3 linked regions of the Homo sapiens genome follow. The protein of the gene in region 2 purifies or fractionates together with the protein of the main gene of each other region. This does not show direct contact. Each region holds a gene or a part of one and is shown on either strand. Other genes may lie near its edges.

Region 1 (8,182 bases), about 20 Mb from region 2:
GCAAGTGCATCCCTTCACCAGGCCACCACTGCAGGTGTGTGTGTCAGACTGAGGAACAGCAGGGAGAGGAGAACAGCATATGGTAGGCAGCCCAGGGGAAGCATGCTGGGCCCTTAACCCAGAAGGAGGGTCTCAGTGTGTCCAGTTGCTCATTTCCTTGAAAGAAAACCCAGATGTCCTCTGAGGTGAACCTAGTGATAGTTTTCCCTTGTAGTTTTAAATGTGCTCATTCAAATTAGAATGCTTAGCCATCCGTCCCATATTCCGGCATTTTTCCTTTAATCTATGTTTGCAGGGTTGTGAGTTGTGCTGAATAGTATGAAATGTGTTATTAGTGGACGCACCACTGTTGACCTCAGAGCATGTGACTAGACAGTGCAGGAGGAGATGTTGTCATGTTACTTTGGATATAAAACGTCCCTAGGTGACCTTGTGGGCCTGATCCACGGTGAAAGGTGGGGAGAGGGTACTGGAGCAGGGCAGAGGGACTGGATGAGCCTGCATGGGGAGGAAGGCGTGACTGAGGGAAGACAGCTCAGCCCCCCAGGGGAAACCTGAGTTCAGTGTTGGGGAATGTGAGGACACAATGGCGGGGCAGGATGGCCCTGGCACCAGCGGTGCTGGGGACCGTAGGGGGCCATGCTTTGTGAGAGGCAAACTTGGCTCCAAGGATGTGAGGCTGGGAGCATGGAGGTGAAAAGGCCGAGAGACAGAGGGGAGCTGAGGCAGGCAGGGCAGAGACGGGGGGCCCAGCAGGGCCTGGGGCAAGAAATTAAGGATGGGGCAGGGTACCTCCAGCAACTTAGTCACACTGAGGGGATGGGAGGGGTAGCAAGGGACTGGGTGGGGACAAAGTGACAAGATGGGGAGTAGGGAAGTGGGCACTAGTTTGTGTGTTAATAGGTCAGCAAGTCTTTTAGAGTCCTGGGAAGTAAAATAAAAATTAAAACAACAAAAACAAGCCGGACAGGGCAGCACATTCCTGTAGTCTCAGCCACTAGGTAGGCTGAGGTGGGAGGATCACTTGAGCCCAGGAGGTTGTGTCTGAGCCTCCCAGCTACTCGGGAGGCTGAGGCAGGAGAATCGCTTGAACTCAGGAGGCGGAGGTTGCAGTGAGTCAAGATTGTGCCATTGCACCCCAGCCTAGGCAATAAGGTGAGACTCCATCTCAAAAAAAGATAATAATAATAAGGGGAAAACTCAGAGATGGAATTACATGCACCAGGTGTAGTGTGAGCAAAGGATTAACTTCCTGATACATTCTTGTTTCCCATATATATAGCTATCAAGGTCATCTTTTAGTAATGAGTTAAGTTCTTTCTTTTCCAACTCAAAATTTGTCTGCATCTTTACCCAAATATCCAGATCTGATACTCTAGGCTTGGGCTAATATAGTGGGGTGGAGGAGGCTTGGGTTAAGGTTTAAAGTTCCAAGGGCTGAACCGGAATAAATGGTGTATTTATCAAGGGAAGAGCAAGGCAAAACCAGCAAGTCCAAACCATGGAGGCCTCAACCGAGGTGAGGGGAAAAGTTAGGGAGCCTTAGGAAAGCTCTGAGGAGGGACCCCAATTAGGGGGACCGTAGTTAGGGTATGAGGTTTGTGAGATCAGGACTGGAATTGCTGCAAGAGACCCTATGATTGGGTGGCAGCAGCATGTTGTGGAGATGAGCCTGCTTCCTCAGCCTCTTCCTCTTGTCAGAACCCTTTGCCTCTCCCTACACACGCACACACACATGCATGCACCATGCTACAGAAACCTTTCTCAGTCTTGCCATTCTCTCAAATTATGCGTTGGTCTTCCCTTCATCTTCAGATTCTTTAAAGAGTAATCAAAGTTCCCACTTCTAGCATGATGAAGTGAGGAGGTCAACAAATCTTTCCAAAATGTAACTGTATAGCTGGACAAACCATTTAGCATTCTGCAATTTTACCAAAGGCACGGCACAAATGGGGATGTGTTTAAGAATGAAAGCTGGCCAGGCGCGGTGGCTCACGCCTGTAACCCCAGCACTTTGGGAGGCTGAAGCAGAAGGACCACTTGAGCTCAGGAGTTCAAAAACAGCCTGGGCAACTTGGTGAGACCCCCGTCTGTACAAAAAAAAAATCAAAAAAGGCATGGTGGTGCACACTTGTGGTCCCAGCTACATGGGAGGCTAAGGCGGGAGAATCATTTGAGCCCAGGAGATTGAGGCTGCAGTGAGCTGTGATCACACCACTGCACTCCAACCTGGGCAACAGAGTGAGACAGACCCTGTCCCTAAAGAAAAAAAAGAAGAATTAAAGTGAGCCTTGGATAAGACCAGCCTGTGTCCGTGGCATCTTTGCCCAGGCTGCTACCCCCATTTACCCCAGCTGTTGATAACACACACAGCGGCCCCCAGCAGGGCAGCCTGTGGAGATAAGCTCCCCTGCCACCTCGCTGCAGGGGCTGGAGGCAAGAGTGAGGAAGGTTTTGATTTGCAGCATGGCTAGTTAAGGTGGTGATATCAGTGACCAGGAGGAAGAAAGGCCACTGACTCCTAGCCTGAGGCTCTGGGCCTTTGGAGACGAGCAAACGACCTGCAGATTAGTCATGGATGTAAGAGGGAGCTCCGGGAGGTCGGAGAGCCAGAGGGAGCTTAGTAAACTCTTCACACTACCCAAATGGACTGAAGGCTCATAGCTGGCAGAGATTAGAGCAAGCCCAAGCCATGTCCATATGCCCAGGGCACACAGCCTGTGTGTGTGCCGGTGCCAGTGTTAGGAAGTAAAAGCCGGAACACCCTTGCAAATGGCCCGGGGCGTGCCTCCTCCCCATTGCACATAGATCCAGCAGCAGATGGTGGAAACCATATTGGCTTTAACTGATGTTTGACTGACGAACTATGCAAACAAGAAGCGACCTCTAGGGAGTCAGTCTGAAAAATTAAAGCAAACAAATGCCAACAATAAAACTTAGCAATGACCTGAGTGAGTGCACACTGTGGAGGAGACAGGCTTCCTGCATGGAGTCCAGCCAGGAGACAGTACAGAATGCATGGAGCAGCTATTGGAAGACATTGAAAACTAAATAGTTGCAGGCAGCTTTCCCAAGAAGACCAGAACTTGAAGTACCACCAAACCGGTGGTGAGATAACCATGTTTCCCCTATGGCATCCCGTGACTAACCTGGCAGTGGGCACCAGGGTGCAGATAGAAAGAGCTCCAGAAGATGCCCTCTATTTCTGGCTCAAGTAACGGGAAAAGGGTCTCCTAACATTCCGAGGGAATCCAGAAGTTCGTTCCTCCCCATTTTTCTTTTCCCTGTTCTCTCATACCTCAGCCCACAAGCAGTCCCACAGTGGCACTGGCACCAGCCCCAAGAGGAGCCCAGGAGCCAAGACGCAGGAGGGAACCTTCTCCAACTGACAGAGCTGTGGTCCCAAGAGGGCAGAAACAATCCATGTTGCTTCTCTTCCAATTCAGTCCTCCCACTGCTTGGCTTCAGATGTAGAAATGCATGGTAGAGCCAGATACCGAAAGCCTGTTTTCTGCTTGGAAGACTAAAAAGAGAAGCCTCAGCAAATGAAAGCAACAGGGTAATTGCTGAGAGAGAGTTAATCAGTGAAGCAACCCCATTAACCTGTCTATAAACCCCAGGGCTCATTCTTGAGCTGCTCCTGCATAGATCTCGTCCTGTTCAACACACCAAAGATTGACAGCTGAACTGAGAGACCATCACCCACAGACACAACTGGCCACTGGGTGGTGCACAAGTCAGACAGAACTGAATAGTCCTGTGAAGACTCTGGACACTGAACTGACTTTGGAACCAGACTGCAGAATGGAGGGGTGGGAACTTGTGGCTTGAACCTAATCAGGTAGATTGCCTGGCCAAAATGAAAATACCTATCATCTCCATAGGATTTAATTTCATTCAATGATTTTTTTTTTTTTAGTAAATTTGCAATGTTTTACAGCCTTCCCCAAAATCTAATTCCAAAATATCTCTATCACCCCAACGAGAGACTCCATTCACGTTGGCAGTCACATGCACTCCCAGATTTCCCCTCCACCCAGCCCTTGGCAATCACTAGTCTACTTTCTGTGTCTTTGAGTTTGCCTACTCTGGATATTTCATATAAATGAAATGATATATGAGGTTTTGTGATTGGCACCTTTAATTTAGAATAATGTTTTCAAGGCTGATTCATGTTGTAGTATGCATTGGTACTTCATTATTTTTTATGCAAAAGTAATATTCTATTGTATGGCTATACCACATTTTTCTTTGAGACAGAGATCTCACTATGTCGCCCAGGCTGGAGTTTAGTGGCTCTTCACAGGCCTGATCACAGCTCCTGCATGGATCAAGGAGCATCACTGCAGCTGCAAACTGCAGCTTCAAACTCTCCGGCTCAAGCGACCCTCCTGCCTCAACCTCCCCAGTAGCTGGGCCTACAGGCACGTGTGTCTGTGCCCAATAATACCACATTTTAAAAATCCATCTTCAGTAGATGGAAATTTGGATTGTTTCCACCTTTTACTAATAAAAATAGTACTGCTATAAACATTCATGTATAGGTTTTCTTTTGTTTTTGTTTTTTCTTTTTTGTAGAGATGGGGGTCTCGCTGTGTTGCCCAGGCTGGTCTCAAATTCCTGGACTCAAGTGATCCTCCCATCAAAAACTCCCAAAGTGCTGGGATTACAGGCGTGAGCCACTATGCCTGGCCTGTATACAAGTTTTTGTGTAGACATGTTTACATCCAATTAATGAACACAGGATGTCTTTCCATTGATTTAGCTCCTCTTTAATTTCCTTCAACAGTGTTCTGTAGTTTCCAGTCTACAAGTCTTACACTTTTGGGTTAAATTTATTCATAATTATTTTATTATTTTTGATAATATTATAAATGGAATTGTTTACTTAATTTTACTTGAATTGTTCCTTGCTGGTGTATAAGTAGACATCTCATTTTTTTAGTTGACCTCGTATGGTACAATCTCTTTGAACTCATTTATTATCACTGATAGTTTAGGTCTTTTTTTTTCGAGGTTTCATTAAGGTTTTCTATAGATAAGATCATGTCAAGACACCCTCAGACCACAGGGCGGCGCCACGAGCCCGGCCGAGTGCAGCTGGAGCGCCGACGTCGCCGAGGATACACAGTGCTGAGGCAGAACGCAGGTTCGTCACAGTGGGCCTCCGTGGGCGGCGCCGCACGCTCGTCACAGTGGGCCTCCGCCGGCTACGCCGCTGCTTCAGTGGCTTGCAGGCACTTTCCTCTTGGAAGTGGCGACTGCTGCGGGGCTGAGCGGTGCTCGCACGCGTCTCGGGAGCCAGGTTGGCGGCGCGATGAGGCGCAGCAAGGCCGATGTGGAGCGGTACGTCGCCTCGGTGCTGGGTCTCACCCCGTCGCCTCGACAGGTGAGTGGGTCTCGAAGAGAGCGACGGCGGCCTCGACCCGGCCGGGGGGCGGCGGCGGCGGCGGCGGCGGCGGGGGGGGCGGCGGCGGCGGCCGCCTCGATGGCTCAGGCGTCATGTCTCCCGAGGGGCGCTGCTCCGTGGCGCGCTCTGTTGAGGCGCCGGCCGGCTGGCGCAGTCCTGTGGGCGGCGTGGCGCTTGCAAGCGCAGGAAGAGTCCTGGGGGGACCGCGGCGGGCGGGAGACCGTTGGCGCCGGCGCTTCCTCTTAATCCCGGCTTGTTCCCGACGCTTGTTCCCGACGGTGCTCGCTCCTGGGCCCGTCCTGGCCCGGGCTTTCTGGCCGATCGCGCACCCCGTAGTACCCGCGCGGCCTAGTTCTCGGGGGCTTGGGCACCCGGGTGCTGTATCGGCGGGTTTCTTCCCATCTCCTGGACATTTACTTTATATGCTGCGGCGGAGGTCGTACCTCCTTGGCCTGGAGGAACCCAGTGGGGACTGACGCAGCTCCGGGTGAGCTTTGGCGGCTGCGTCGAGTGACAAGGTAGGCATCTCAGCGCGGACATTTGCAATGGCCCGACGGCGCAAATGACACGGAAAGTCCCCTTGTTTTGAGTATGAGGTGTTTGTCGCTGTCCCTTTGTAAGGGTCCAGCTCCACTCCACTCCTCATACTCACCTCCCTCGCCCCCCTCCCCGCCCGGAACACTTTGGTAGCTGCCTTTGCTTAAAAAAAAAAAATTCTAAAGTTCTTACAAATCGTTAGTATGGCTTGCAATTTTTAACCTTTTCCACAGATGTTTTAAGGGTATTTTTCCTCTTTACATGTAAATAATGCTGAGATTACAGGTGTGAGCCACTCTGCTCAGCCTGATTTTTTTTTTTTTAAACAAGCTTAAAAAAAAAAAAAGCAAGTTTGGAGCCTTTCTGAGATTCTTAGTGGGGACCTTGGCTTCCAAAAGATTAAAAACCACTGGTCTAGACAGAAGTTAGAATGTTCTTTCAACTACATAACTTCTCCATTAAATAAAGTGGAGTGGTGGCAGAATTTTGACGATTGGTTATTATGACACCTCTCTTACATTTAGAGTCTTTTTTTTCCCCCAAATTTAAAGTCATTTACATTAGAACCTGGGGATTTCAGCGGAATATGGATTAACTAGTGAGTAACTGGAACATGTGAAGCTATTCTGTGAAGTTAGGTTTGAGTGAAATGACAAAACAGGGTGCTTTGGATAGAAGGTAAAGAATGGAGGGAGAAGAGGCAGTGGCTGTGAAGAATATGAAGAGGTTAGTATTCTCCCCCAGTTTGGCAGAGGCTGGCCATCTGTGAACTGCCCATGCTTTCTAGAATGTCGGAGTTTTGGAGTGTGATGATGCGTCTGTATATCATATCTTTCTAGTCTTCCATTGCGCTTTCATTTGTTAGTCTCCTCTTGTTTTGCCATTTTTCTACTCCCTCACATGTGCTTTTGCCCTTCTTAAAAATATTCTTCGTCTGTAATCCGAGCATTTTGGGAGGCCGAGAGACCAGCCTGACCAATATGGTGAAAATCCGTCTCTATTAAAAATACAAAAATGAGCCGGGCGTGGTGGCAGCGCCTGTAGTCCCACCTACTCGGTAGGCTGAGACAGGAGAATTGCTTGAACCCTGGAGGCAGAGGTTGTGGTGAGCAGAGATTGCGCCACTGCACTCCAGCCTGTGTGACAGAGCGAGACTCTGTCTCCAAAAAAGAAAAAAAGAAAAAAAATATAATTCTTTCTCTAGTTTTTCTTTTTCCAGATGGCTTCTGTTTAGTTTTTCTATGTTCTGTCAAGTCGGTTTCTTATTCTGCAGCTGATTCCTACTTCTCAAAGTCTACTTGACAGCTCTTATTTTTATTTGTATTTTTTTTAGAATAGGGTCTTGCTGTGTTGCCCATCAAATTTTTGGGCATAAATGATCCTCCTACCTCTGTCTGCTGAGTACTTAGGACTACAGGCAGGCACCTTTGACAGCTGTTAGTTGTTTTTTCTGCCCTTTACATCTATACTTCATACTTCTGAGTAACACACATATATACTTTTGTTATTTTTAATTCCCTTTCTCCCATTTTAGACATTTTCTTTTCTTTTCTTTTCTTTTTTTTTTTGAGACGGAGTCTCGCTCTATCGTCCAGGCTGGAGTGCAGTGTCGCGATCTCGGCTCACTGCAAACTCTGCCTCCGGGGTTCACGCCATTCTCCTGCCCCAGCCTGTAGCTGGGACTACAGGCACCCGCCACAACACTCGGCTAATTTTTTAGCATTTTTAGTAGAGACGGGGTTTCACCGTGTTAGCCAGGATAGTCTCGATCTCCTGACCTCATGATCCGCCCGCCTCAGCCTCCCAAAGTGCTGGGATTACAGGCGTGAGCCACCGCGCCCGGCCCCATTTTAGACATTCTGTACTGGCTATTATGCTCCTCCAAAACTGTCCTCAGACACTTTGGTTTGCCCCTCATTCTTTCAGTACTGTTACTGCAGTTTTTGTTTAAATGAATAGTTAACATTTATATAAATAGAAGGTAAATATTTTTGCATTTGAATTGCCCTTGTTGTGCAGTTTTTTGTTGTTTTTTTTTTATTATACTTTAAGTTTTAGGGTACATGTGCACATTGTGCAGGTTAGTTACATATGTATACATGTGCCATGCTGGTGTGCTGCACCCACGTTTTCCTGGACTGAATAATTGCTTTATTTTTTGGTTTGCTTGTATGTTGTGTTACTACTTGCTTACTTAAACTCAGCAATTTAAACCCTCAAATGTGGTCAAACTGG
Region 2 (3,696 bases):
TGACAGGACACGGGAAGAGGCCATGCTCTCCCTCGGGACCTGCTGTTCCATGTGTCCCAAGCCCTCCTGCTTTCCAGATGGCCCCTCAGGAAACCACCTTTCCAGGGCCTCTGCTCCCTTGGGCGCTCGCTGGGTCTGCATCAACGGAGTGTGGGTAGAGCCGGGAGGACCCAGCCCTGCCAGGCTGAAGGAGGGCTCCTCACGGACACACAGGCCAGGAGGCAAGCATGGGCGTCTTGCGGGCGGTAGCGCCGACACTGTGCGCTCTCCTGCAGACAGCCTCTCCACGTCAAGCTTCCAGTCTGTCAAGTCCATCTCTAATTCAGGTGAGCAGGCTGGCGTCCATGTGCTCACAGGGGTGAGTGCCCCACGGGGACCCCAGCCTGGGTGGCCTCTAGGGGTGCTGACCAGGTACCCTCTGCTGGGCCAAGCTCCAGGATTTGGGGATGAAGGTGCAGCTGAAAAGAGCCCTGCAAGCTGAAGCCACCGGGAGGGGATTAAGGGGGGGTGGGCAGGACCAGGGACCAGTCACAGGGCAGTAAGGCCTCACAGCAGGCACCCCAGGGTGGGGCAGCAAGCAGGCAGGAGGGGCCTCCCCGGGTGGCCGCCTAGGGAGGACGTACCCTGGCTGCCCAGCAGCAGCCCTGCTTGGCCGTGTCCCCGCCACAAGCAGGCAGGACACAGGAGGGATGGCACTGCCCACGGAGCCCTGGGCTCATGGCACCTTCTGCAGAGTGAACTGGGAGCAGAGAGCCTCTTTTCCCCACTCTGTGAGGCCGGGCATTTTCCTCAGCCCAGCCCTAACCCTCACCATTCCTGTGATGGGCCCAGGTGCTGGACGGGCCTTGTCCTTGCCGAGGAAACCCATGCAGGCTGGGTCCCAAGCCTCTCATGCAGTTTCATTTTACCCAAGATGGGGCCAGCTTCCACTATGTTGATTGTTCTAGAGTGTTCACAGGCACCACCCATGGGCTTCACCCTCAGAACCACATTGATTCCCCCCAGAACCCTCCAAGGCAGGCTTCCCTTTACAGAGGAGGAAACTGAGGCAGGGACAGGGGCTTCTTGGGTACACACAGCTGTTCCTGGAAAACTTGGGCGGTGACTGTTGGTGCCTGCAGTGACCGGCCTTGTAGGGTCTGACTTGCAGCCAACTCTCAAGGCAAGGCCAGGCCCCAGCCCGGCTCCTTCAACAAGCAAGATTCAAAAGCTGACGTCCCCCAGAAGGCGGACCTGGAAGAGGAGCCCCTACTTCACAACAGCAAGCTGGACAAGGTTCCTGGGGTACAAGGGCAGGCCAGGTAAGGCTTGGGTGTTCCTGGGGTGCAAGGGCAGGCCAGGTAAGTCTTGCCTGCACCCTAAGGGCCCCATGACTACATTTACTAGGCTCACGCCCTGCAGTCAGCCAACTGCTCTGCCCCTAGCTCCAGGGGCCTGTCTCCAGGGCTCATGATAGCAGATGACGGCCACGCTCTACCCATCGGTGGGCGCTGTCTTCCTCCCTTCCCCTGGGGGTCCTGCAGAGTACCTGTGCTGACCTGAGCCCACGAGGGGGGCCAGTAGCGGCCCCTAAACCACTTCCTCAGAGAAAAGTAAAGTAATATTCTGACCAAGAGAAGGCTTGCTGCCCCTGGCCACAGCCTGCCTTTGGAGGGCACTAGGCCAGCAGGTCAGAGTAGGAACAGGTTCTGGTGATCCCTGAGTTTGCGGGACTGCCCTGAGATGCTACAGAGCGCACACTTTCAGCAGCGCAACCAGCAGGACAGGCTCCTGCATCTGCACATCCCGAGACCAGGCCTGGAGCAAGATGCCCCACTGGGTGTGGGGTCACGATCAAGAGCAGCCTGGCAGCTAGCTGGTCACCCACTGAAGCCCATCTGACCCTTAGGGCACCTTCAGAGGGGAGAAAGGGACAGGCCCCAGTCCCAGAGACCCCCACCTGGTGCCCAGAGCACCCTGCTCAGTGGGAGAGGGGAACCAGGCCCTCTTCCCCACATTGGCCTGGGCGCTGCCTGGGGAGGTATGCTGGGTGGGTGGTTAGACGCACCTGGGCAGGTCACCTCTGGCTGCTGCAATGACTGTTTCAGAAAGGAGAAAGCAGAGGCCTCTAACGCAGGAGCTGCCTGTATGGGGAACAGCCAGCACCAGGGCAGGCAGATGGGGGCGGCGGCACACCCCCCAATGATCCTGCCCCTTCCCCTGCGAAAGCCCACCACACTTAGGCAGTGCGAAGTGCTCATCCGCGAGCTGTGGAATACCAACCTCCTGCAGACCCAAGAGGTGAGGCCCTGGGTGGTGGGGGTGGCCCTGGGCAGTCTGGCACCGCCACAGGCCCCACCACGCCCCTGCCCCTGCCTTTCAGCTGCAGCACCTCAAGTCCCTCCTGGAAGGGAGCCAGAGGCCCCAGGCAGTCCCGGAGGAAGCTAGCTTTCCCAGGTGAGTGCCTGGTGCACCCCTGCCCCATCCCTGGGGGCCTATCCACAGCTCACTGCTGACTCTTCCTTCACCCAGGGACCAAGAAGCCACGCATTTCCCCAAGGTCTCCACCAAGAGCCTCTCCAAGAAATGGTAAGTCCCACAGGCATGGGGACAGTGGGGCAGCCCTGCAGCCTGGGCCCCAGGGAGGGAGTGGGGAAGGGAGCGTGGCAGCGCAGAAGCGGAGCTCGCTGAGGCCTCTCTGTGCCCCCGTGAGGGCCATGCAGGCCGCACTCCCCACACACTCCACTCGCGAGGATGCTCACGGTGACAGTCCCTCTACCCGCCCCCAGCCTGCTTCTGAGCCCACCTGTGGCGGAGCGTGCCATCCTGCCCGCACTGAAGCAGACCCCGAAGAACAACTTTGCCGAGAGGCAGAAGAGGCTGCAGGCAATGCAGAAACGGCGCCTGCATCGCTCGGTGCTTTGAGCTACCCGCATCTGGTCAGTGCCAGGCCCACCAACCTGCAGCTGGAGATTGGCTCTCTATAGCATTTCCTGACACTTCCGCTACTTTTAGGCCTGGCTAAATTCCAAGATAGATAACACTCAAGATAGATAAAGTACTTGATCTCCAAACTGACAAACTGTTTATTTTCTAGCTGTTATTTTGCTATTTGGCATTTACATAAAAGCACACGATGAAGCAGGTATCGCCTTACCTGTTGAAACTGAAAATAAAGCTTGTTTATTTCCAAGTTGTGTGCCTGGCTCCTCACTGGCTATCAGGCGTCGCGTCCCTTCCCAGTCCCAGCCCTTGGCCTCTAGCCCAGGCCCCGCTGTCTGCAGGGACCTGCCTGGGCAGCCCAGTCTTGCGCATCCTGGGACCTGCCAGCGGCCCTGGGAGACAGGCATTGGCAGAGCCATGCACATCCTCCCTGGAAGCGGGAGGGCTTTTCTGGTCCCCTGGCTGGGCTGGAGCTGCGTTCCAAACACATGATCACTCTGTCTCTTGCCCACACTGCACACTCCTGGGGGCAAGAGGCTGTCCTCTGCTGCCCTGACACAGCACCGCAGACAGGGGGTCCAGCCAGGCTCGCCCTCCTCCTCGGAGGGCTGTCTCGAGTGCCGTGGCCATGCCCGCACCACCCCTTCCGCCACAGCACAGCCATGTCCATGTCGGGGGTGGGGTGGCCAGCTTAGTGCCCACCCTCAGCCAGCCACACAGTCTTCCCAGGCCCACGGCCCACTTCGTTGGCATTAATCTCAGCCTCTTCCTGCT
Region 3 (7,794 bases), on a different chromosome or scaffold from region 2:
CAGCTGCAGAAATTTGCATAAGGAGAAGCCAAATGTTAATAGCCAAAACAATGGGGAAAATGTCTCCAGAGCCTGTCAGAGGTCTCCACAGCAGCCCCTCCCATCACAGGCCCAGAGACCTAGGAGAAAAAATGGTTTCATGGGCTGGGCCCAGGGCCTTGCTGCTTTGTGCAATCTTGGGACTTGGTGCCCTGAGTCACAGCCATGGCTAAAAGGGGACAACGTAGAGCTCAGGCCATTGCTTCAGAGGGTGCGAGCCCCAAGCCTTGGTGGCTTCCACATGGTGTTGGGACTACGGGTGCACAGAAGTCAAGAATTGAGGTTTGGGAACCTCCACCTAGATTTCAAAGGTTGTATCAAAATGTCTGGATGTCTAGGCAAAGATGTGCTTCGGGGCAGAGCCCTCATGGAGAACCTCTGCTAGGGCAGTGTGGAAGGGAAATATGGGGTGGGAGCCCCCCACACAGAATTCCCACTGGGGCACTGCCTAGTGGAGCTGTGAGAAGAGGGCCACTGTTCTCCAGACCTCAGAATGGTAAATCCACTGAGAGCATGCACCATGCACCCAGAAAAGCTGCAGACACTCAATGCCCACCCATGAAAGCAGCCGGAATGGGGGCTGTACTGTGCCAGGTCACAGGGACAGAGCTGCCCAAGACCATAGGATCCCACCTCTTGCATCAGCGTGACCTGGATGTGAGACATGGAGTCAAAGGAGATCATTTTGGAACTTTAAGGTTTAATGACTGCCCTATTAGAATCTGGACTTGCAAGGGGCCTATAGCCCCTTTGTTTTGGCCAATTTCTGCTATTTCGAATGGTTATATTTACCCAATGCCTGGACCCCCATTGTATCTGGGAAGTACCTAACTTGCTTTTGATTTTATATGCTTGTAGGCAGAAGGGACTTGCCTGGTCTCAAATGAGACTTTGAACTGTGGACTTCTGAGTTAATGCTGAAATGAGTTAAGACTTTGGGGGACTGTTGGGAAGGTATGATTGGTTTTGAAATGTGAGGACATGAGATCTGGGAGGGGCTGGGGTAGAATGATATGGTTTGGCTGCATCCCCACGCAAATCTCACATTAAATTGATGAGATCCCATAATTCCCATATGTCATGGGAGGGATCTGGTGATAGGTAATTGAATCATGGGAGTGGGTCTTTCCTGTGCTGCTCTCATGATAGTGAATAAGTCTCATGAGATCTGATGGTTTTATAAAGGGGAGTTCCCCTGCACACACTCTCTTTCCTGCCACCATGTAAGATGTGACTTTGCTCCGCCTTTGCCTTCTGCCATGATTGTAAGGCTTCCTCAGCCATGTGAAACTGTGAGTCAATTAAACTTCTTTTGAAATATAAATTACCCAGTCTCGAGTATGTCTTTATTAGCAGCGTGAGAACAGACTAATATACTATGTTCTATGATAGATAAGAGATATAAAAGACATATTTATTAAATTTGCAAATGACACAAAAAGAATGGTTAACAGAATGTATAAAAGATTCAAATGCAAAACTATCTCCATAGATTAATGAGTTGAGATAAAAAAGAATCAGCTACATAATTAGAGGATGGGAGAGACCAACCTTAGTCAAAATCCATACAGGGTATTTTAGTGTGAGCCAATAGTTGGACATGACTGTCAAAATGCTTATGGAAGCTTAGGCTGAATGGATGAAAATATTGTGCCAAGAATTATGGAAAGGAGATAATGGTTTCATGGACTGTTCAGACCATAACTGGAATATTGCTTTAAACAAAATGGAAAGAGGGGATGACTGGAGATATTCAATAACTGCAGACATCAATAAAGGGTGATAGGCCAGGCGTGGTGGCTCACGCCTATAATCATAGCACTTTGGGAGGCAGAGGTGGGTGGATTACTGGAGGTCAGGAGGTCAAGACCAGCCTGGCCACCATGGTGAAACCCCATCCCTACTAAAAATACAAAATTAGCCAGGCATGGTAGCAGGGACCTGTAATCCCAGCTACTCGGGAGGCTGAGGCAGGAGAATCGCTTGAACCCAGGAGGCAGAAGCTGCAGTGAGCCAAGATGGCGCCATTGCACTCCAGCCTGGGCAAAAAGAGTGAAACTCCGTCTTGAAAAAAAAGTAATTAAAAAAAAAAGGGTGACAGATTTGGTGAAAATCTTGGAAACCATCTTATGCATCATGAGTAACTCAAATTTTGAAAACTGAATCATGACTTCCCATTGACTCTGAGGCTTTCATAACTTAAGTCTCAGCCAATAGTTCAACTGCAGAAAAGTGCCTTTCATCCGATTTTGGTCACATACATTCATCTTCTAAGTTCTCATTTAGTATCTTCATCTCTCATTATGGTTTTCAATGATAAATTTTAGTGTTCATATTTCAGTTCCCCAAAAAGACGGTAAACTCTGAGGCGTGGGAGATCAAAAGCCAGGCAGTTGTCAGAATCTTGCCAGTGTAAATTGACTTTAACCTAACAGAAATGATTCTTTTGGCATCACATTTGGGTGCCTCTATTTCCTCTAATCATAAATCTTTCTTCTACTCATTTCTTCATAGTAAAACCAAGAAGTCTGTGCTATCACTCCAACAGCACCAAGAACAGATATACTAGTGCAATATTATACACATAATAGGGGCTCCATTAATGCTTGCCAAATGAATAAAGACTGTTCCTATAAATTTTTTTTGAAAAAAAAAATCGTCTAGATGCAGTAAAGCTTTTTAATTTGCCAAAGAACAGAATACCTACCTAATAAAATAACTCTCAAATTCAATATTCTATAGAAATACAATCTACCAATCTGTTATAGAGGAGTTTTATCTCATGTAATATGCAGGAATTTGAAACCAAAAGTTGGTGCAACAATAGAAAATTTGAAAATAAATTCTGCAACTGTGCCATAACTTACTTTACATTCCTCTTTCCAGTCTCTAGATGTTGATATGCTAATGGAGATGTAATACAGTTACTGCTCTAATTTAAACCAGATACTTAAAATTGAAGAAGCTGCCTACTTGTTGAAGCTATTACCCTAATACTAGTAAAAATAATTGACCATTAGATCTAAAAGGGGCCTTGGATATTATCTGGTACATTTATCTCACAGATCAGTAAACAAATGAAACTTTATTCTAAAGTTCACAAAGACAATTAATTGCTAGGCCCGATTTTTAGTCCAGTCCTTTTCAAATGTGGTTTTGACTTGCATACGGACAAGGATGATGGTAAAAGACAGGAAACATTTCAAGTCCTAGGAGAAATGAGATTTTCTCCACTACTTTCTTTGCTCCCCACAGATTTAAGTAAGTTCTAAGAAGTCCCTACAGATGGGAGTAACTGAAGTGCTTCCTTTGCACGTTTTTGAGATTTGGAGAATTTAAGAGGTTCTAAGACCTATGTAAAATTTCAACTCAATTACATATTTTTTGGTTCATTATCTATCCACCAATTCTTCCTTCCATTTAAACCATTAGATCTGAAAAAGTCCTTAGAAACTGCCTAATAGTGGTAGATATTTCGTTTCACTGATCAAAAACCTGAGGCTCAAAAGCAAATGTAAATTTATATTTCATAAAAATCTTGGGGGAAAAGTCCTATCCTATCCCATTAGAGAGGGAGTAGTGCAGTTAGAAATACAACACCGAACTCCTGAAACCAAACATCAAGTATCCTTAAACAAGATAATAGAATTGTGATTTTTTTCTTTTCAACATGAAACTTCATACTATGCTGTATATCACATATAATTAAATTACACAATAATCACATACCGTATTAATAAGAGGTTAAGTGTAATATAATAAAATGGTCATCTCACAGCGCCAGACTGCCCTCTCTGTAAAACTGTGAGATGCTGAATACCTAGATATTTCGACCTTTTCTCTAACAAGTTATCCTCCAAGGCTACTTCATCGAGGCAAAAATACATTTTATTTATTATTAAAAATTCCAGTATATGTATGCTTAATTAATACTGAGTATTCCCCATTCTTGTTTCAAGTGATAGTCTTTGCTTATCCACATACCTAGGAGGCTGGGGAGGCTCCTTCAAGTCACTGGGTATGAGGTTATAAATGCACTCAGAAGAGCACGTTGGATCCATGGCCACCAAATGACTCCTTAAAAGCTACTCTCCACAACTTTTTTCTCCCTGTCCCAGTATCTCCGTCCCTTTCTTCACTGCTTCCCCTTTCTTTCTTCTTCGCCTTCTGAAGGACCACAGGTTCTCTCCTTCACATCGTCCCCCTTTAACCCCCTCTTAGCAGTCCTCTCTCGGGAAGAAAACACCCTATTTCTCTCCGGATTGCTAAGCGTCGTTGACTGTGCGGTTGCCGTGGAAACCGTTACTAGGCAACGAGGAAGTGGCAGGCAGCACCGCAAACTAGGTCTCCCCTCTTCCCTCTTTCTGCAGCGCCTTCTGCTAGAGAAGCTCATTTGGAAGCCACTGTTTTTACGTGCCTTTGAAAGTTAACGGGGTGAAAATGATGTCCCCTTAAAAACTGTGCTCTTTTCTATTTCTGTGTATCTGGGGAAAAAAGAAAAATCCTAGTAGAGACGGCAAAGCGCAGCTGGTGCGCAGGCGTCACCCAATAAGGTTTTTGTGAGCAGGCCCCAATCGCGGTGTGGGCGGAGCGAGCGGCTGAGACCACGAGGACGCAAGGCCAGCGCCGCCAGGGAGACGAGGGAGGGGAGGAGCCTGAGGAGATCGGAGTGCTCGGATAGGCTACAGTGAGAAAGGAGAGTCACGTGCCCTGCGCGAGGCCGCTCGGGGAAGGGCGTGGAGCGGAGGCACGCTGGCCGCCGCAGGCACAGGCGCAGAGTCCACTGCGCGGGGGCGGGACCGGGGAGCTAGCTGCAGGTACGGTGCTCCGTCTCCTGTGGAGGCTTTAGCGGCTCGTGGACACTGCTCCCCCATTTCCTTTCATTTCCCCCGTCTTCTCAGTGAGATTTCCTTGGTGAGTTATTGGAGGAGAAAGGAAGGAAAACTAGAAGCCAGCCCGCTCCCATCGCATGCCTTTCCCCGTACCGTCCCTTCCCCTTTCCGCTACTCGCTGGTCATCTCAACTCTGCGCGCATTTTTCCTGCTGCTTCTGGTCGAGGCTCCTCGGAACGCCGCGCAGCCCTGCCCGCCACGTGTGTGAGTGCGCGCACGGGGCCCGCGGCCTCCTCCGCCTGCTGCGCTCGCCCTCCCGCCCCTGCTCCCGGGACCGCCCCTTGGGCGGTCCTCCGGGTCGGCTCTGCGCCTGCTCTTCCCCGGGTCGGGACTCTTCCTCTAGGTCGTTCTCCAGGAACCAGTGGACCTGCTCTTTGTAAATGAGCAGCCTAAACTAAGAGGAGAAGCCTTTTAAGTGGGCCTTTACGTTTTTGTCCAGTTTTTGGTGTCCCTTGTTGGAAAATTGTCTTCTGAGAAGCGGTTTTATTCCTTTTTGTTCCACCTGGTCACCCGTAAATCTATGCACATGGGCCTGCCGTAGGAAAGTCATTTAGACGCTTTTACCCGAGTGTTTAAAAGACATTTTGGTAATAGGATTTGGGGAGGAAGATGGATGCCTCTGAACCACCGGTACAGAGGCCACTCTGCCCGAAGGAAATAAAGCTTCCCGGAGAGGAGAGAAAACACACTTGAGTCTGGGTTTCTCACTGCCTGGTTGGCTGGCGGAGTGATTAAAACAACACAATGGCCTGGTGAACCTTTTAGTTCCTGTATAAAAAGGCTTTACTGAATGTGTAGGTCCTTACTTTGGGCTCTTACTGAATTTCACTACATAAGAATACGTTAAGTTTTTCTTTTTTTTTTTTTTGTATACAGTTGATTTTAATTTTTGTCCCAGACGCTTAGGGAAAATTCTCCAGATTTCTTCACATCAGATTGTCTTCCAAAACATTTTAGATAGATGGATCTGTAGATCTATATTTAGATCTAGATCCAAATCTATATCACTTTGCCCCTTTCTTTTCGCCCTTGAGTATTTTATGTTTGGGATTTCTGTTTAGCAAGTATAGAGAAAAAATTTGGCGGGAAACCTCCTGTATGTACGAAGATTCGAACCAAGGACTCATGGAATGATAACGCCATTAGCCAAGTGGATAGTCACTGGCTAAAGCTTATGAATTTTCTAATTAGAAGGAACACCTTGAGACTATTTGTGTTAATCAGTTCCTGAAATAGCAAGTAAGGGCAAAACATGATTTCTGCAGTTAGCACCAACTGGCCTTTGGTAGCCTTGATGTTCTGGGGTTACTGAAATAAAATAATTTCACTGATGTCTGTATATTTATTATGCTTTAAAAAATGCTAAACAATTTGTGCAAGACCTCACTGTGGTATAGTTAGTTTACAGCCATGAGCAGGTTGTTAAATCATTTGGAAAAAAACTTTTCTTTTTTCTTAGACATTTGATCTGCAATTCTCCTTGCCTTTTGAAAGTGTGTTTAAGCAAAATTATTTCTAGTTTTTATAATGCTCTTGAAATGACACTTCAAAAAAATGCCTGTGTCCACCGCATGTCCACAGGGAATTAACTGGTATATACCTACAGGGATGAACAAACTGTCTATAAAGGGGTAGACAGTAAATATTTCAGGCCTTTTTAGGCCAAGTGGTTATGTTGCAACTACTCAGTTTTGCCATTGTAGCTCAAAAGCAGCCAAAGACGGTACTGAACAAATATGTGAGCACATGAATGACTGAAGTTGTGCTTCAAAGAAACTTGATTTATGAAAATGATGGTGGGCCAGATTTAGCCTGTGGATTGTAGTTTGCACAGATCCTAGATCCCCGTATATAATGGTATGCCTGTGATGTACATAAACAAATGAGAGTTGTTTTTTTTTTTTTTTTTTTTGCGAAGGATTATTTTAATCTATTTAAATGAATAAAATGGGTGTAGATGAGTATATAAGACAATTGGAAGGTAAATAAACCCTTTATAAAGACAGGTTCTTTATAATTCTCAAAGTTATAGAATTGTGGATACTAAAGTTTTCAATTAAATATTCGAGATCGTTAAGAATATGTCTAACAGCAGAAGTCTAACGGCAGAAAAAGCTTAGTCAGCTTTGATAGTAATATAAAGACTAAGTGATGAACTTGCAAAATTGTTTTAGTTGTGAGATCCTTGTGATTACAGAACTATACTGGATTGTGTGGTCCTTCCACCCTCACCTCTGTTTCATGGCAAGTGGGAGGCCCTCTGAATGAAAAGTTTGAGAGAATTTTTGGTCAGAAGTCAGAAGCAGTAGAGCTTAACCTCCTTTTGGCTAGTTTGTGTCCTGATACACAGTTAGTTCTCCATATCTGTGAATTTCCCATTCTCAGATTCAACTAATTACAGATTGAAAATATTTTAAAATTTTAGTTGGGCACAGTGGCTCATACCTGCAATCCAAGCACTTTTTGAAGGCCAAGGCAGGAAGACTGCTTGAGCCCAGGAGTTGGAGACCAGCCTGGGCAACATGGCGAAACCCCCTCTCTACTAAAAATACTAAAATTAGCTGGGTGTGGTGGTGCGTGCCTTTAGTCCCAGCTACTTGGGAGGCTGAGGTGGGAGGATTGCTTGAGCCTAGGAAGTCAAGGCTGTAGTGAGCCAAGATTGTGCCACTGCACTCCTGCCTGGGCAACAGAGTGGGAGCCTGTCTGAAAAACAAACAAAAACACGAAAATAATGGAACAGTAAAAATACCACAAACAAAAAAGCAAATTAGTACAACAGCTCTGTACCTAGCATTTGCATTGTATTATGTATTATAAGTTATTCAGAGATTAAGGTATACAGGAGGATGTGCACAGGTTATAT

Evidence for each region.
Region 1: the proteins of CCDC74B (region 2) and RGPD5 purify together in Homo sapiens (affinity purification with mass spectrometry, with the first as the bait; 2 studies listed by BioGRID). This does not show direct contact.
Region 3: the proteins of CCDC74B (region 2) and THNSL1 purify together in Homo sapiens (affinity purification with mass spectrometry; 3 studies listed by BioGRID and IntAct, with this or other methods). This does not show direct contact.

Annotation. Positions count from the first base shown.
Region 1 is NC_000002.12:109,789,149-109,797,330, forward strand, and holds the start of RGPD5 (RANBP2-like and GRIP domain-containing protein 5/6), read left to right. Parts: upstream 1-5,156; 5' UTR 5,157-5,317; coding exon 5,318-5,389; intron 5,390-8,182.
Region 2 is NC_000002.12:130,138,763-130,142,458, reverse strand, and holds the end of CCDC74B (coiled-coil domain-containing protein 74B), read left to right. Parts: coding exon of another isoform or gene 1-275; coding exon 276-326; intron 327-1,079; coding exon of another isoform or gene 1,080-1,105; exon of another isoform or gene 1,106-1,121; coding exon of another isoform or gene 1,122-1,162; coding exon 1,163-1,301; intron 1,302-2,087; coding exon 2,088-2,280; intron 2,281-2,362; coding exon 2,363-2,436; intron 2,437-2,511; coding exon 2,512-2,568; intron 2,569-2,768; coding exon 2,769-2,904; 3' UTR 2,905-3,172; downstream 3,173-3,696.
Region 3 is NC_000010.11:25,011,837-25,019,630, forward strand, and holds the start of THNSL1 (threonine synthase-like 1), read left to right. Parts: upstream 1-4,775; 5' UTR 4,776-4,856; exon of another isoform or gene 4,857-4,953; intron 4,954-7,794. Other genes in the region: ENKUR (enkurin), read right to left, coding at 4,024-4,100.